2 separate regions of the Homo sapiens genome follow, and region 1 is reported to be linked to region 2. Evidence: microRNA targets listed by miRTarBase, many of them from high-throughput screens and not tested one by one. Region 2 holds a microRNA gene; the other region holds the end of a gene's coding sequence.

What was found. Region 2 holds the annotated microRNA hsa-miR-4761-3p (GAGGGCAUGCGCACUUUGUCC, at 3,833-3,853, opposite strand). A microRNA usually pairs through its seed, bases 2 to 8, with sites in the 3' UTR of a target mRNA and lowers its output. Matches are read on the target gene's strand: a 7mer-m8 pairs with bases 2 to 8, a 7mer-A1 pairs with bases 2 to 7 and ends in A, and an 8mer does both.
Region 1: the mRNA of ZMAT4 is a reported target of hsa-miR-4761-3p. Seed matches in the 3' UTR shown: 7mer-m8 at 1,715-1,721.

The regions. Positions count from the first base shown.
Region 1 is chr8:40,527,414-40,532,786 of GRCh38, reverse strand. ZMAT4 (zinc finger matrin-type 4) reads left to right here. Exons shown (of 7, transcript NM_024645.3): 7 at 549-2,197. The coding sequence ends at 564. Among named protein-coding and RNA genes, the nearest start is that of SIRLNT, 190 kb to the right of the region's middle.
Region 2 is chr22:19,962,363-19,967,666 of GRCh38, reverse strand. It overlaps MIR4761 (microRNA 4761), which reads right to left and starts at 3,914; the gene lies at 3,833-3,914. It overlaps COMT (catechol-O-methyltransferase), which reads right to left. Exons shown (of 6, transcript NM_000754.4): 3 at 4,852-5,140; 4 at 3,908-4,101; 5 at 3,368-3,499. The coding sequence starts at 5,140. It also overlaps a transcript of ARVCF not described here. RefSeq lists enhancers at 3,426-4,141, 4,142-4,857, 4,858-5,304.

The sequences.
Region 1 (5,373 bases), not on the chromosome of region 2:
TGACCTCGTGATCTGCCCACCTCTACCTCCCAAAGTGTTGGGATTACAGGCATGAGCCACTGCACCTGGCCCAGAAACAATTTTTTTTTTCTATTCTTCTAACAGAGAAAATTCTGAATGAGTGGACAACGAGGCTTATATTAATTTGAAATTTAGCCACTGTAATGTTGCTCTCCACTTTCAACAAGAGGGTTCTGCATGTAGTTATACCTGAAACTTAAAGATGGGTGTATGCAGCATGCCATAAATAAAAATCAATTCATTATTTTTATTTAAAAACATTTGGAATGAATTTAGTGTCTGGATTGACAATGTAGAGCTATACATTTTCTTGTACGTATGTGGAGATGGCATTAGTAATGGAGATATTTTATATATACAGGTTATTTAGAACCTGAAAGATTAACTTTACAAATTCAGATGCATTTGAATTTGATGGTTAAGGTAATATGAGAAGTAGAAGAGAGACAGGGGGTGGGGGGGAGAAAGAGGTGTTGGAATTTGTAATTATGAAAGAAGGTAACACTGTGTTTCCTTCTGTCTTATAGCCTGAAGAATAAGTAGTGAAAGCATCAATCAAGACATAAGAACAAAACATTAGCATTTCTCTGCCGTGGAGAATTGCTTATCAACCACCAGAGGAGGCTTCTTTCTTGAACAATAAACATTTCTTATAAGGATTCACAGATTCACATACGACTGATCTTGATTTTTGGAAATGAATGAGGTTTCTTTTTTCTTTTTCCTTTTTTTAATTTTGGGGTAAGTTATGATATTTGGATGGATTTTTAAATTCTTTCCTGATAACATATTTAGCACATGTTCTAAATTATAATCCTATAGCAAACAGTTGGAGCATTATTCAAACTGAAAGTGGAAAAATTTAAATTTCCAATTTATTCTAGATTTCCTCAGAGCATAATTATTCTGTTAAATCCTCAATGAGTGTGATGTAAACCACCTCTATCCAGAAATATACATTCTTTTCTCATCATGTTGGACACAGTTGAGGGTGACATGCACAGAACTGGAACAGATCACTATTAGTGGAAAATACCAAATGGACAAATAAATACCAGTCGTTTTCTCCGTTCTCCAAGCACAGGAGCCAGGTTTACCATCTGAACAATGAAGACGAAGGGAGTAAATAAAGGAAGAATTCTCATCTTTTTTCCTGATCATTCAAAGAACAGTTTCTCAAGGTTAAGCCAAGTCCTCCTTGCAAGTTGCCAAATAATAGCTTAGGAAAAGAATTAGTCTGCCTGCATGATGATCTTCTTAGGCAAAAACGTCTTCACAGCCCTTGACCTTGGTGAATTTTTTTCCCCAAAAGCATCCAAAAGAAGAATTATAAACCCCAGAATGAGATGGAAATAAACAAGTATTTTTTTTTATGATGTTTGGCCTGAACTGTGGGCTTTAATTGGGGGATACTGATCGTTTGGAAAGAAGTGAGAAAATTCTGAAGAAATGGCGGCCTTGGGCTAGGCGGGGTCCCCTATTTCTTCTGTTTCTCACTGAAGTCCTACTGCTGAGCCAAGACTCAGTCACTCTGGAAAGAGCATGACCGATAAAGAAAACAGTTCCTTTCTGATGGGGAGCGTCTGAGTGCAGATCATGAGGCTCTTTCTCTAGGTTTAATTCTTTTCCATGGTGACCGGACTTGGTGTCTTGTAGCCTGGTTACGAAGTGGGACGTTGAGCTTCTACTGACGATGCCCTGCATGGACCAGCTGGGATCTGGCTGGGGCTGCCCTGTGTCCCTAACGACCATAGGCAATCCATCTTCTTGTGTCAGCAATTTCTGGACACCCACTGTTTTCCACCAAGAGCTGAGGTGGCAACAACTCAGTGAGCAATAAACAAAATGACACAGAAATGCACAGTGTTGTTATGAAGGAGCCTGTTTACCTGTGTTCAAAATCTGGCACCATTCCCTTGAGCAGGGCCCGCTCAGGAGGGACCAGGTCTGCCAGTTTCTGTGCCTGCAGAGAGACGAAGCCCCACGAGCCACACCCTACTCTACAAGAGGAAAGGGGGTTGGATGGGAAGAATCTATTTTGCTGTTTTGGAAAGCACACAGCCGACCTACAAACCTCCTGTGATGGTGTTTCTTCGGATGTGTAAAATAAGGCTTTATTTGTCAATTCCGCTGTAAAATAAGCATTGTCCGAGTAAAAACAGCAGCAACAACAAAACACTGTTTCAGTTTGGGTTTAGTGAGTGAGCTTATGCCCTAAAGTGCTGTGTGTGTGTGTGTGTGTGTGTGTGTGTGTGTATTTAAAATAACCTAATATAGAAAAGTCTATGAACATAGATTTCTTTTACTTTACAGAGAGGCTATGCCAAACCCTTTATAGATAATCTTCCGGCCATAATAATCAGATTATTTCAGAATTCCTCATCTAAATACCATTGCTCCTTGGCAACCTGTCAAATGCAAGTGAATACCCTGCCAGAGGTTTTGTGTGTTTGTTTGTTTTCAAATTTCTTTATTTTTGCCCATGCAGATAGTGGAAATTATCATTCTAGTGTACCCTGGAGATGACATATTTAGTTTTAGGCAGGAAGGGGCTGCTAATGTTGTTTATATTTTGGGAATTCTGGAATGGAAAGATTCCTACTTGGGAAGCTAGCTGTTTGTGGTTGTCTTTTCTGTTTGGTTTGCTGTGGTTGTGTTTGTTCAGCTAAGTCATATCTTACCTTCCCATTTTTTTATGAGTGGATGGGAGTGGGATGGAAGGTAAATGTTTTCAAATAACCAAATCAATTCTGAAGGAGAGGAAAGAGACCCACACAGACCCAGGTGTGTCCCTGTCTTACGTCCAGTCCACCCGGAGCTGCTGACACGTGGTCCCAGCAGAGACTCCGGGCCAGCTGAGAACATGAGTCAAGTGATTTTCTGTAAAATGTTAATTAAAAGGACCTAGGAAAGAACCCATATATTTGAAAGAGTGAAGCTATTCAAATTATCAATATTTAAAGTATTTTTACTGTTCCAGAGTTTTTATAATAATGTTAACTAAACTAACCAAATACTGCCCATTTAAAGTTTTGCTGCAGTGAGGGAAAAATTATTCAAAATTAACATAACACACAAGCTTAATGGACTCCTTATACTATATCAGAGTAAAATTATTTGTATTTAAAAGGTTAGTGGTTACGTGGTTGAAATTGTCTTCTTAAGAAGATAAAACACTCCTATAGTCTTGGTCATGCAGTTAATTTACTTTGCAAAAAGTTTTTCTCCGTCAGTACAGAGGTAAGCTTCAGGCTAGCACCTGTGCCAGAGGCCACAAACGCCACGGTAGTGAAACCCAAATTAATGAGTCTTCATTAAATTTAGTCTCCAAGCCCAGTGAACTAATAAATATAGTCATAAAGTAATCTGCTAAGTAAAGGGGACTACAGTGATTCCTTTGGCTGATAAAGGTAGTAATAAAACTCTCATCCGCAATTGCTTGACTACAAAGACAAATAGGATTTGTGTTTCACTTGCCTGTTAGACGACATATATAAGCATAAATTGGAACTGAAAGAGTCTTTACACTTTTTTATTGACATGAGTTTATTAGGTCAACCAGACCAAAGGATGAAAAATTTAAGATACATGAAAAATACTAAAACTCCCATAGGAAAATTTGAGCCTTCTGGTTGGGGCTGGGGGTGGAGTGTGGGGGCATTCTAACTCTTCCAAAGCTGATATTTTGAGTCGGAAATTTCTGACAAGTCAGTGTGAACACAGAATATTAAAGCCCCACTAAGAAAATTACCTTTTTAAACTGCCAGGTAATAAAATAACTATACTCTCTCTATATTCCATCCAAACAAAATATTCATTGTTCACTTGACCCACTTATATGAGGAACTGTTTTTCTTTTGTGACCAGAATAAGGAGGGTCCAATCAACATATTATTGTGGAGATAGCCTTTTTTTTTTTTTTCTGGCTTCTACCTAATTTATTTATAATAAAGACAAGCTAGGCTACCTCATAGGATTCTGGTGTGGATTCGCTAATTAATAAATATCAAGTGCTTAAAAATATGGATCTCTGTATAAATCCTGCCTTAATTTGTTTTCTAGTTTAAGATGTGCATGTCAAATCAACTGTCTGAATATTTGATTGTAATATTCATGTTTGTAAATTTGGCTTTAAATTTAAGATATAAAAATTTTGATGTGAAATGGAATCCTAGCATGGGTTGAGAGCATCTAACCCAAGACTGGCAGATATAGCACCTAGGGAAACAAAAAGCACCTGGAAACCAAACCAAAATGTTTTTAGAAGGCATTTTTGACTGGGCGCAGTGGCTCACGCCTGTAATCCCCGTACTTTGGGAGGCTGAGGCTGGCAGATCTCTTTAGGTCAGGAGTTCAAGACTAGCATGATCAACATGGTGAAACCCCATCTCCACTAAAAATACAAAAACTAACTGGCTGTAGTGGTGCATGCCTTTAATCCCAGCTGCTCCAGAGGCAGAGGCAGGAGAATCGCTTGAATCCAGGATGCGGAGGTTGCAGTGAACCGAGGTTGCAGTGAACCGAGGTTGCGCCATTGTACTTCAGCCTGTGTGACAGAGCAAGACTCTGTCTCAAAACAAACAAACAAACAAACAAACTAAAAAAGTATTTTAAAAGAAGGAAAGGAGGGAGTCTCAGCATTGGTTTGAGGAGTATATTAAGTAATTCTGTGTTCTAATAATTAAAATGCCAAGATTCATCAATGAGTTATATAAAAAGTAGACTGGATTTAAAGTGAAGACTATGATAATGTAATCCTTACTTCATTCCAATGTTGAGTGAAAGGTAAAGGGAAATCATAGCTAGTCCACATATTTCTAAATACCTGCAAGAGAGACTGTGCAGACCAACTTGATTTGTGTCTTCATAGAAAAATGTTGAGTACTATTTTTTTAAATGATATAGCCTAAAGAGAAAAGAATGAAATTAATATCTAACAGTTTCTTAGTAACACCATCTGAAGGCTCTATGGTAACTAGTTAAAAGATGATTTTACTGCTGGCTGAACTGCGCTTCCATTTTCCCCTTATGATTAATTACTCCTTAGTCACTATTCTGAGTAGCAATTTTATTTGCTAATTTCAAATGCCTCCACTTAATTAGCAATTCGTTCTGACCTTTAAAAACTACATTCTATAGTCTTCAGATTATATGAGCAAAGGGAAAAAAATCCAATTTTACCTGTCTCCCACCACCAGCCACCCATAGCGGCTTACATTGTTTCTGGGATACCGTGAAACTACTGTACAGTGTCAAACTTGAGTTAACGGTGGTTGTTTGAAATCCAGGCTAAAGTTCCCTCATCCTTCAGGGGGTCAGTAGGTTCAGTGAGAGGTAGGGATGCTCCAACTT
Region 2 (5,304 bases):
TTTGCAGGCAGGTGCCTTGAAACACTGGTATCCGACCCCACATGCCTCTGGGATGGGCCTGGAGAGTCCCACAGGGCTTGCAGCTGTCCTGGTGGTGGGTGGCGGTCGTTTCCAGCCTGTATGCTGCAGAGAAAGCAGGGGGCTTTCATGTGACAGTATGGACACCACACGGCTGCAAGGTCAGTGAGGTCAGGGGACAGCCCCAAGGTCCGGAGTTGAGCAGGAAGTACCACCATGAATCATGATGTGTTTTCATTTAGAAAAAAAAAAAAATGTCCTAGCAATGTCAGCTGAAAAGACGTAGAACAAAGCGCCACCCGGGAGGAGGACAATGGCCTAGGCCTTGAGCAGGGCGGCTGCCTTCCAGTCTGGGCCAGGGAATGCATGAGTGAGGGGCCTGGGCTCCTGGACTTCTCGGGTTGCGCCAGGGGACTCAGGAGCCCAATCTGGTCATCAGGGATACAGAAGACGTCAGCGGACTGAAAGACACCAGACCACTGCACCTGCACGAGTTAAACAGGAAAGAAGGAGGGAAGGGCAGAAAGGAGCATGGGTCACCTTTGGAGGCTGCCAGGGGCCCACTCCTTTACGAAACTGGTCAAGAGGGGAAAGAAGGCAGCACCTGTCCTGCCTGTCGCCCGACACTGCAAGCCTCCTACCAGCTACTCAGACCACCTGGAGAACTGGCTAAACATGCATCAGCGTCTGAGCAGGACTGAAAATCTAATGCCGTGGAGAAGCGACAGTGTCAGAGGAGCAGGTGACACTATGCTGAGGTGGTTTTCATCTGGCCCACCCTCCTTAGACTCTCCTCCCTTCAAGAGTTGGAGCCTCACAGAGGTTGCAGGGAGCCAAGATCGCGCCACTGCACTCCAGCCTGGGCGACAGAGCGAGAGACTGTCTCGAGAAACAACAACAAAAAGTTGGAGCCTCAGACCAAGCACACACCTGTACTCCCAGCACTTTGGGAGGTTGAGGCAAGAGGATCGCTTGAGGCCAGGAGTTTGAGACCAGTCTGGGCAACATAGGGAGACCCCATTTCTACAAAAAATTTTTAAATTAGCCAGGTGTAGTGGTGCATGCCTTTAGTCCTAGCTACTCAGGAGGCTGAGGTGGGAGGATCACTGGAGCTCAGGAGTTTGAGGCTACAGTGAGCTATGATGTCATCACTGCACTCCAGCCTGGGCACAGAGCAAGACTCTGTCTTTTTCTTTTTTTTTTTTTTTTTTTAAGGGGGAACTCATTCCTCTTCCTTTGGGCATGGGCTGGACTTGGTGACTACAGCAGCCCGGTGGAGAGGCCTCCTCAAAGCAGCCCTTGATTTTGAATTGCAACCTGCTCCTGAGCCCCTCACCCCTCGTGCCTCCGATGCTCACAGAACCCACTGAGGGGATGGCTAGACCCTCACAAGAGCCAGGTTGTCCCCTAACCCTCCACAAGGGGGCACAGGGCCCCAGCCCTGAGTGTGCAGATGTGCGTTTAACAAGGACACCCATTCCCAATTCATGACTTCCCACTTCATGACTTTGCTTCTTTTGAGATAATTACCAGCTTTGCGCAAGCAGCACTGAGAAAACTATTAGTTTCCTAGTTACTAAACTGCAATGTTTGCTACTTTTCTATGAAGGCAGGCCCCTGTAATTAGCACCCACATCACAGCTGCTGAAACTCGGCCGCAGTAACGCAGGCCCAGCTGTGGGTGTCTTTCCTGCCCAAGTGAAGCCCATCTGGCTGAGTGCCAGCTCTCTGCCATCAATACCCAATTGCCAGCATCATGCTCCTTTGTCAGGGGTGAGCCCCCCTCCAGCTACCCTGTCTTGGCCTGTAGGTCTCCCTCCCACCCTCCCAATGCCCACCCCCTTGGCCACTACAGGTCCTCCCTCTCCACGGCCAGGGTTCAGTGCCTCCTCGTGAGTTCAGGGCATCTGAAATGCCCTCCCCACAGCCCTCTCCACACTCCACAAGGCTGACAGGGATCTTTCCAGAAAAGTTTTTGTTGTTTTTTGTTGTTTTGAAAGCTGGAATACGGCCGGACGCAGTGGCTCACGCCTGTAATCCCAGCACTTTGGGAGGCCGAGGCGGGCGGATCACGAAGTCAGGATATTGAGACCATCCTGGCCAATGTGGTGAAACCCCATCTCTACTAAACTACAAAAAACTAGCCGGGTGTGGCAGCGCGCGCCTGTAGTCCCAGCTACTCAGGAGGCTAAGGCAGGGTAATCGCTTGAACCCAAGAGGTGGAGGTTGCAGTGAGCCGTGATCGTGCCACTGCACTCCAGCCTGGTGACAGAGCAAGACTCCATCTAAAATATATATATATATTTTTTCTTTTGCCATGTTGCCCAGGCTGGTCTCGAACTCTCCTGGCCTCAAGCGCTCCTCCTGCCGTAGCCTCCCAAAGTGCAAGGGTTACAGGCATGAGCCCCTGAGCCCAGCTCCAGAAGACAGGTCTAACCTCATCCTCACCTGCCCAAAGTCCTGTGTGCCCTGACTCCCATTGTTCCTGGAACATTCTCTGCCCTTTCACACCTCAGGCTTCTGCTAGTGCTGGTTCCTTCCAATCCGTGTCCAGGGTCCAGCGGCCCTACCTAGCCAGGCATGGGGGCTGTGCCCCTCGTGCTCCTAGTCCGGCTGCTAACAGCAGTGTCCAGTTTCTGGGAGAGCTGCAGGTGAGCGAGCACCAGGTGGGGAGGCCGTGAGGGTGGGTGTCCCAAGCCCAGTGGAGGATCACAGAGCCACTCAGTGTCGCTGACCACCAGGGAGGGATGGGGCAGTGTGTCACTGATGTGAGGCTCCTTAAGCATCAGTCTGTGAAGGGCCACCAGTGCCCCACGCCCCCCAGGGAAGCGAGGACAGCCCCACCCGCTGTCTAGCCTCACTCGGGGCACTCAGGGTCCTCGCCAGTGGGGCTGGGTTGGGGGAATGCACAAGATGGGGCCTCAGGAGGAAGATCTGCAGGAGACACATGCTTTCTTTGCACGAGCAGTGGCTTGCTTGGGGGAGAGCAGGCTGGGCCCAGAGCGGCCCTTCCCCACCCCATCTCCTTGGTCCTGTGCCGTTTCTGCCCTGGTGTCTGGTCTGGGGTGTGCACCCCACTTCTGCCACCCATTTTGCACCTGCACAGGCAGCTGGCTCCCCAGTTCCCAACAGGCCACCCAGCCAGGCCCCTGGCCCAGCTCCCCACCCATCTCCACCCACCACAGGGCCTCCTCAGTCCCCCACACTCCCAGACCTCAGGTGGTGCCTCCAGAGCGAGCTGTGTCCACACAGGGCTCTACTGGAATGCCTGGCTCTTTGGAGAGGCTGAGGCTGACTGAATGGGCTCTGGGCAGCAGCTGGCACGGATGCCATCCTGGTTGGGGCTCACCTCCAAGAGAAGCGTGTCCGGCAGGTACCGGTCCTTCCAGTGGTCGAGGAAGACCATGTCCAGTGTGTCCACATCATACTTCTTCTTCAGCTGGGGGATGATGTCCTGGGACGCTCCAACCACAAGGGTGACCTGGAACAGCGCCTGTCAGTGCCCACGTCCTCACAGACAGGAGGCCATCCCTACACACCTATACAACAGCGCCTGTCAGTGCCCACGCCCACACAGACAGGAGGCCATCTTTACACACCCATACAAGCATTCATCAGTTTTCTTTAGGGTTCTGGGATGACAAGGCCCCACTCTGTCCCTGCCCCTCCTGGTGCCACCTTGGCAGTTTACCCAGAGCTGTGAGACCCTCACTGAGCTGCTGGGGGGGTCTTTCCTCAGCCCCAGGCTGGGAAGCACTGAGGGGCCTGGTGATAGTGGGTTTTCAGTGAACGTGGTGTGAACACCTGGTGGGGAGGACAAAGTGCGCATGCCCTCCCTGCCCACAGCCGGCCCTTTTTCCAGGTCTGACAACGGGTCAGGCATGCACACCTTGTCCTTCACGCCAGCGAAATCCACCATCCGCTGGGTGATGGCGGCACAGTCGGGGTTGATCTCGATGGTGATGAGCCTCGCCCCTGGTGACAGCAGGCGGGCCATGCGCACAGCTGAGTAGCCACAGTAGGCCCCCAGCTCCAGCAGCACGGAGGGCTGGTGCTCCTGAATCACGGCGTCCACGATCTTGCCTGTGCAGGGTTGGGGACGGAGGAGAGGTGAGCACAGGTGGAGAGAGGGGAACTTGGATCCCCAGGCACGGCCCCCCACCTCTCCCAAAGAGCAGGAGCCCCTCCCAAATGCCTGGCCGCTGGCCCTCCTCTGCCCACCCTCCCTACCCGCTGGAGGGGTATTTCACCTCCCTGGTGTCCCCAGCCCCCAGGACCTGGTCCCCACTGTGAGCGCGCTTGGAGCTCCCATGGTCCCTTAGCCTCTATGCTCACGCTGGTCCCTATCTTTTCCACCCTTCCTGGCTGGCCCCAGTGTGTCCTAACACAGAGCTGCCCTCTCTGAATCACCGAACCGCCCACCTTGGGGCCCTGGGGCGGCACTAGTTCCCTGAGTCACTCCGTGAGCCCGGTAACACATCCTGTGCCCCAGGCTGAAGTTCAAGCGGGAGGCGGGCCCAGGAGAACCTGTCTGACTGGTCCCCAGGCAGGTCCCATGGTGGCCAGAACAGAGTTCAAGGGGAACTGCACCACCGTCAGACCCTGTGAGTGTGGGGGCCTGTTGTCCTGGGGCAGCAGGCAGCAGGGCCTGCAGGGGTCATCAGGGACCCTGGCACCCTGGGACTCCAGAGGAGCCCCCCAGCCCTATCTGGGCATATCCCAGGGTTCCCAGCCCCCTGGAAATGGGGTGATAACAGCTTCTCCTGTAAGGGCTTTGATGCCTGGTCCTGGGTCCCTGTCCCAGAGCTGAGCACCTGCTGGCCCGGACCCCACCTTTCTTGTCGCCCACGTTCATGGCCCACTCCTTCTGCTCGCAGTAGGTGTCAATGGCCTCCAGCACGCTCTGTGCGTTCCCGGGCTCCGCATGCTGCAGCACGTGGTTCAGGATGCGCTGCTCCTTGGTGTCACCCATGAGCAGGTTGTGGATGGGCTGCAGGATGAACTCGTTCCAGCCGATAAGGCACAGGCCCCAGCCCCAGTGCCTCAGAAGCAGCAGCAGCACCACCAGCAGCACCAGGCCCAGCAACACAGCTGCCAACAGCAGAGGCGGGGCCTCCGGCATCTGCAGGGCGGGAGGGGAGGGGCGCCAGTGCTCTGTGCTCCTCCTGCAGCACCCACACGCCCCTTTGCTTGGAGTGCCACCATCGCCCCCTTGTGTTTGCAGAGGGGCAAGGTTCAGAAATGCCAGCCTTGTGCCTCAGTTGCCTGACGTGTCAGCGCCAGGGA